Linked DNA regions of Homo sapiens. The protein of the gene in region 1 purifies or fractionates together with the protein of each later gene. This does not show direct contact. Each region holds a gene or a part of one and is shown on either strand. Other genes may lie near its edges.

Region 1 (3,753 bases):
AAGCTCTGTTTTGATTAGCAAAATAAGGTCTGGGTGAGTCAGGCACCACGGGAATTAGAGCATCAATGTCACCCACATTTCCCTCCTTATTTCTATCCTTTTTCCCTCCTGCTTTAAACAATTCTCTGACACCGTTGTTCAAAAAAAATCATGAAAAAACACCCAAAGTCTTCCATTATTTAATTAAATTGGAGATCTCAGAATGGTCTGGATTAATTTAACTGCAGCCTAGTTAATTGCTAGATGGATTGGTGATAGCCATAGCCTCATTACATTTCCTTTGCTTTAGGATAAGTGCAAGAAGGCTGCTTCCAGCTCCAAAGCACCTAAGAATGGAGGTAAAGCGAAGGATTCAGCAAAGGTAAATGGAGCAGTAAATATACTACAAATTAGTTTAGCAGTTACACAGAGTAGGGTTTATCATTTCAGTCATTTAGTTTCCTACTGGAATCTATTTAGAATAAAATTTCTTAAAGTACTATCTATCCCATAGCATCGCTTGGTAAAGTAATTGAATTTGTATAAATACATATATTTTTAAGTAACTGGTGCTTTAAAATCCTAAATGAATGTTCTTGACACAACCCAATTTGCCTGTGTTTTGCCTGTCTTTCTTGCCCTAATTAAAATACCACCATAGTATGTGGTTTATATAGATTTTAGAACATGGAAGTTGGAAACTTCCTATTATTAAAATTACTCAAGCTGTGATGAGAAATGAAAATTGGATTAGACAACTTCTAGGTCCCTTCCAATTCCAAGAACATATGATTTAAATGATTATTACTATGATCCCCTGGCTATAAGGAGGAGTTAAAGGTGTAGCTTTAAAGACAATAGTCCAGTTACACCAAAGCTTTTAAAACAATATATTAAAATCTTCCTGTAGTAGATTCCCTTAAGGGATATAGGAAACAGCATTGATAATTGGCAGTTATGCCATTATATCTCAGTTTAAATACTTATTTGCCTATTATTTAATTTCAGTTATACGAAGTACTTAATCAGCCCTTTAACAAATAATAGAAAGCATAATAACCCTTTATGATGAGTGGATTTACTGGACAGCCATGACCCTATGTACAGGAAAGGAAGGATCACCACAGAATGAAACATTGCCATTTAAGAACACCTATGCATATTTTATAACCTACCCTAGCCTTAAAAAAATAAAGCTGAGAGTGATACATTTAGGATCAGGATCACTTAAGGTTATTTTTAGCTTATAAGCTTGAGGAGGAAGAACTCACAATATTGTGGCCAGATGAAGAAGAGAAACTGAAAGGACCATCTTATTTTTCCCCACTGACTGCCATCTTTTGTCCCCTAATTCTGAGAAGGCCATCTCCTCATACTTAATACAGAAAAGAAAGCTCACGGATGGTTTTGCTTTCCCTTTTAGACAACAGAGGAAACTTCCAAGCCAAAAGATGACTAAAGAAATACAAGTTAAGGTATCTGGTAAGTTGGGTGTTTATTTGTAAATGAAGACAACTGTATCTTCTGCCAATTTATGTGTTATAGATGAGAGAAGTGAAGTCCACCTCTTGAGTAATTCATGCTCACTTTACAGTATTGGCATGAAATGCATACTGCAAGATCTACAGAGTAATTGGTCATTCTCTGAAAGCACTAAATGGGATGAGTTTGCTATTGAAATGTTTAAAAACCTTAATCTTATAATTAAAAGCTTTTAAAAATATTAGGCCAGGCACTTAGAATGACCATCTGAGGCTAGTTGAATCTTTGAAATCCAAATGCTCATTACTGCAGGTTATTGTGGCAAAGCAAAATTAGCATGTTACAACTTAGCGAAATGTCCTGAAGACATTGGCATTCCCCAGAATACCAATACATGGTGGGGTGGGGAGAAGTACCCTTTAGAGTCTGGTGGAAATTACAGGGTTTTGGGAACAAGGGCAAAGGAAAAGATTGGCCATTTTTATTTGTCATTATTTTGGAAAGTAAAGTACTGTGTTTGATTCTAATTTATAATTGCTGAAGAAACTGGACAGATTGAAGGGATTTCTGAGATCTTCAGAACTGGGCCCTTATCTTAATCTTCAGAAAGGAGAGGGCTTAATGTAAGCCTTAAAAGCATACAAGCACTTACTGACCAAAGCCTAAAAGAAATCAAAGTATAGGTTAAATCGGGTTCAGCTCTCTCACCATGATCCATGTTTATTTCCTAGGAAAAAAGGAGCTATATTAGGTAGAACTGCTCTAACATTTTTCCCAAAATTAAAAAAAATTCTATTAATCCACTTTCATGTTTACTTATAGGAAATTCCTTCTGTCTGTTATACAATGCTTTTGCTAAGTGGTATATTTACTATGTCTGTAACAAGAAAATTACATATTAAATGATTCACTGCATTTTTTATTTGAAATTTTTAAGGTATCTGCATGTAAAATCTTCAGCTGGTGGATGGTGACTTTTGAAGAACAAAAGGCTTTGGCAACAGAAAACAATTGTTCTGGGTGATTTCTAGAATGGTTTTTGTTGAGTCTCTGAACATCCTAAATATTGGTTTGTTATTCTTTTCCAGAAAGAAAATGAATTTGACTGGTTCACCTGTGTACTGAGTATTGATAAACTTTGAATTTTTTTAATTGCCTTCAATTGGGAGAGAAAGCTTTATATTTGTAAGAAATATATTTGATAAAGTTTCTTAAAGCAACACCAAAAAAACAAAAGAAAAGCTAAGTGAATTTTTGCACATTCTACACACAGTGCCTGTAAATCTCATTTGTATTTTCAGTTTGCCCTTAATTTTTTTTGTTAGTGTTTAGAAAACAATGTTTTAAACATTCTTCAGTGTTCTGATTTCTTATTACCCCCTTTCCTCTTGGGCTTTTGAACTGTATTTGATGTTGCTTTGGGATAATGTTTATAAGTCAAACATAAGATATTGTACATTGGGCACATATCTCCTCTTGGGCTGCTAATAATAAATTAATAACAGGTAACCTGGACAAACCAGGAAGCACCAAACCCCTTTTCAGTTTGAACTCTTCTTTGCCAGGTGTGAGGACTTCTGCATCTTACAGTCAGCACAGAACACACTGAGACTTGAATCAAGTCAGCAACAGAGCAAAATAAAGGTTAGATAAGTCCTTGTGTAGCAAATTTCGAGCATAAGAAATAAAATCTAATTAATTCTTAGGGTACTCATCTGACTTGAACTCTGTTGGTTTACTGTGTTAGTAAACTGTGCTTTCTATTATCTATACATAAAACCTGAGCAGCAACTGTGTCTTTAGAGCTATTGCCACATTAGCCTTTGCACTGTATAGCGTCTGGCTTTATGGAACTTAAGTTTACCAAATATAAAAAGAAACTTCTGCTTTTAAAAAAATTATATATATATATTAAATTTGAAACCTGCATTTCTCCCACAGCAATGTAAGAAGTAGGCTCTGATGTCCTACCACTTTGAATGGTTTTCTAATATCTTAATGAATAGTTCCTGAACATTGCACTGATATCATCGATTAGAATTTTGATATTTAATTTCATCTTTATTTCCTGGTAGAGAATGCAGGAAAAGATGTCAGGTACATAACATAAAACAGATTGGGAATTTATTGTTTCCAAAGGGCATGGCCTTCCTTAGCATCAGTTTGAAGCTTTTGTTATGACTTAGCTGACTTGTGGCAGCGGGGCAAGCAAAAACAATAACACTGCTTATAAATGGCACCACATCTTGTTAACCTCCCCCCCAAATACTCTCTGAAAGTCATGCACATACC
Region 2 (3,753 bases), on another chromosome or scaffold:
GCTGAAGCGCAGTGGCGCAATGTCGGCTCACTGCAACTTTCGCCTCCTGGGTTCAAGCAATTCTCCTGCCTCAGCCTCCTGAGTAAGTGGGATTACAGGCGCCCGCCACCACACCTGGCTAATTTTTGTATTTTGATAGAGACGAGGTTTCATCATATTGGCCAGGCTGGTCTCGAACTCCTGACCTCATGATCCACCCGCCTCGGCCTCCCAAAGTGCTGGGATTACAGGTATAAGCCACTGTGCCTGGCCAGGAGGTTTTATTTTTACTTTTATTTATTTTATTTTATTTTATTTTTTGAAATGGAGTCTCATTCTGTTGCGCAGGCTGGAGTGCAGTGGCATAATCTAGGCTCACTGCAACCTCCGCCTCCTGGGTTTAAGTGATTCTTGTGCCTCAGCCTCCCAAGTAGCTGGGATTACAGGCAGGCGCCACCATGCCTGGCTAATTTTTGTATTTTTAGTAGAGATGAGGTTTCACCATGTTGGCCAGGCTGGTCTCGAACCCCTGACCTCAAGTGATCCACCCACCTCGGCCTCCTAAAGCGCTGGGAGTACAGGTGTGAGCCACTGCACCCGGCCTGAGGAGGTTTTAACTAATAACCTAGGAGATGAGACTGGGCAAATATTAGAAACTGATGCTTAGAAATAAATTTAGAAGGCCGGGCGCGGTGGCTCACGCCTGTAATCCCAGCACTTTGGGAGGCCGAGGCTGGCGGATCACGAGGTCAGGAGATCGAGACCATGCTGGCTAACACGGTGAAACCCCGTCTCTACTAAAAACACAAAAAATTAGCCAGGCGAGGTGGCGGGCGCCTGTAGTCCCGGCTACTCTGGAGGCTGAGGCAGGAGAATGGCGTGAACCCCGGGGGGCGGAGCTTGCAGTGAGCCGAGATCGCGCCATTGCACTCCAGCCTGGGCAACAGTGAGACTCCGTCTCAAAAAAAAAAAAAAAAAAAAAAGAAATAAATTTAGAAATACTCAGAGGCATGTCTTCCCAGATGCTGTGACTCAGAGTTTAAGGATTTCTGTTTTGTAGTATTGATTCTGAGACCTTGAACTTCTTTCTGATTCCTTAAAGTTGTAATTATACTTTTGAAAATTGTTATATCATGAGGAATTTTTTTTTTTTTTTTTTTTTGAGACAGAGTTTCACTCTGTTGCCCAGGCTGCAGTGCAATGGCACGATCTCAGCTCACCACAACCTCCGCCTTGCGAGTTCAAGCAATTCTCCTGCCTCAGCCTCCTGAGTAGCTGGGATTACAGGCATGCACCACCACGCCTGGATAATATTTGTATTTTTAGTAGAGATGGGGTTTCACCATGTTGGCCAGGCTGGTCTTGAACTCCCAACCTCAGGTGATCTGCCTGCCTTGGCCTCCCGAAGTGCTGGGATTACAGGTGTGAGCCACCATGCCCAGCCTTTTTTTTTTTTGAGACGGAGTCCCGCTCTTTTTATCCAGGCTGGAGTGCAATGGTGCGATCTTGGCTCACTGCAATGTCTGCCTCTTGGGTTCAAGCAATTATTGTGCTCAGCCTCCTGAGTAGCTGAGATTACAGGCGTGAGCCACCACGCCCGGCGCCATTATCTTTATAATAGACATAAACAAGAGACATAATAAGAAGGAGACGTAGACGTTCTTTGCAAACCGTTTTCTGTGGCTTCAGGATTCTAACAAGTTGGTAAACTCTTTAATGTGTCCTGAATGTCTGAGGCCACTCTGTCATAGACACATTACCTAAGAGTAGGAGTCCCAGGTTCTTGGTCTAGCTTTGTCACCTAGTCGAGTTCCCAGCAATGCTCTGGTTCTTTCCATCTTTACATCTGTAAAATGGGAGAAAGTAGACCCCTTCTAGCTCAGATATTTTTTCTGTATTGTCACTAACACCTCTGGCCTTTCTGTGGGTCAGACTACCTGTAAAACCTCATGCCGCAAACTTACAAAAAAATACAAAAGCACTTTTAGTTTTTATAGCTTTTGGGACTAGTCATTTATTTTTTCTTTCTTTTTTTTTTTGACACGGAGTTTCATGCTTGTTGCCCAGTCTGGAGTGCAATGGCACGATCTCAGCCCACTGCAACTTCTGCCTCCCAGGTTGTAAGTGATTCTCCTGCCTCAGCCTCCTAAGTAGGTGGGATTACAGGCATGCACCACCATGCCTGGCTAATTTTGTATTTTTAGTAGAGACAGGTTTCACCATGTTGGTTAGGCTGTTCTCAAACTCCTGACCTCAGGTGATCCCCCAGCCTCAGCCTCCCAAAGTGCTGGGATTACAGGCGTGAGCCACTGCACCCGGCCTACTTTTTTCAATGAATGTTTATTGAACACTTAACACTTTGGATTATGTTAGGTGCTATATCAAACCTTTTGGGATTGCAGAGGTGAATACAGATTTGTTCTTTGTTTTCATGGATCTCACAGTGTAGCCAAAATAAAAAAAACAAGCAGTGAAAAAGTAGTGGGTGTTGGGGCAGAATCCCTGGGAACATAAAACTAACCTAGGTTGGGGGCTCAGAGAAGACTTTGTGAGGAAGTGACGCTTCAGATATGAAGGATGAATAGCTGTAAGAAGGGAGAGAGATGAACCGTGTGTGTGTGTGTCAGGGTCTTGCTCTGTTGTCCCAGCTGGAGCACAGTGGCTGTAAGAAGGGAGAGAGATGAACCGTGTGTGTGTGTGTGTGTGTGTGTGTGTGTGTGTGTGTGTCAGGGTCTTGCTCTGTTGTCCCAGCTGGAGCACAGTGGCGTGATCCAGCCGCCTTAGCCTCCCAAAGTGCTGGGACTACCTAATTTTTCTTTTTCTTTTTTTTTTTTTTTTGAGACGGAGTCTTGCTCTATGACCTAGGCAGGAGAGCAGTGGAGCGATCTCAGCTCACTGCAATCCCCGCCTCCCAGGTTCAAGCGATTCTTCTGCCTCAGCCTCCTGAGTAGCTGGGATTACAGGCGCCCGCCCCTATGCCTGGCTAATTTTCGTATTTTTAGTAGAGCCGGGGTTTCACCATGTTGGTCAGGTTGGTCTCGAACTCCTGAGCTCGTGATCTGCCCGCTTCGGCCCCTCAAAGTGCTGGGATTACAGTCATGAGCCACTGCGCCCAGCCCCTAATTTTTCTTAACTGTAAGAGGGAGCAGTCCTTACCTTACAAGGATGTTACGAGGATTTAAAAAAAGGCAAAGACCACAATCCACTTCAGAATCCCTTGGGGCCACATGTGTTTTGGTATTTAAAATTATTTGGATTTCAGAAAGGCAATACAGTGCATATAATGTGCATTACATACAATAATCTAATCGCAGGCCAGGAGCTGCATCCTGCAACAAAACACATTAATATTTCTGCAGAAATATATATATCAATATACATACCAAGTAGAAGAAATGAAGACTGTAAATACCTCATGCCACGAACTTACAAAAAAATACAAAAGCACTTTTAGTTTTTATAGCTTTTGGGGCTAGGAATTGTAGACTTGAATACAGCCATAGTGATCTAATCAATATGGTATTGATAGAAGAAGAGAAAAATGGACCAGTGAAGCAGAATAGAGAATCCTGAAATAAAGTCTGGCATTTATGAGGATTTAATGTGTCTATTGTGGTAATTCAGTTCAGTAGGCAAAGCATGATTTAATAAGTCATGCTGCTACATGAATTTTTTTTGGTTAAAAAAACAAAATTTGCCATCTGTCATACTCTATAAAAATACCAATAATAAAAATCCTGTAAGGAAAACTAGGAAACTATAGTCTTATGTGGG

What was found. Proteins that work in one complex are often made in the same cells at the same time.
Region 2: the proteins of CAST (region 1) and NUDC fractionate together in Homo sapiens (co-fractionation; 2 studies listed by BioGRID). This does not show direct contact.

The regions. Positions count from the first base shown.
Region 1 is NC_000005.10:96,770,242-96,773,994, forward strand, and holds part of CAST (calpastatin), read left to right. Parts: intron 1-289; coding exon 290-361; intron 362-1,402; coding exon 1,403-1,438; 3' UTR 1,439-1,461; intron 1,462-2,398; 3' UTR 2,399-3,753.
Region 2 is NC_000001.11:26,924,599-26,928,351, forward strand, and holds part of NUDC (nuclear migration protein nudC), read left to right. Parts: intron 1-3,753. UniProt on the Homo sapiens protein: Plays a role in neurogenesis and neuronal migration. Necessary for correct formation of mitotic spindles and chromosome separation during mitosis. Necessary for cytokinesis and cell proliferation.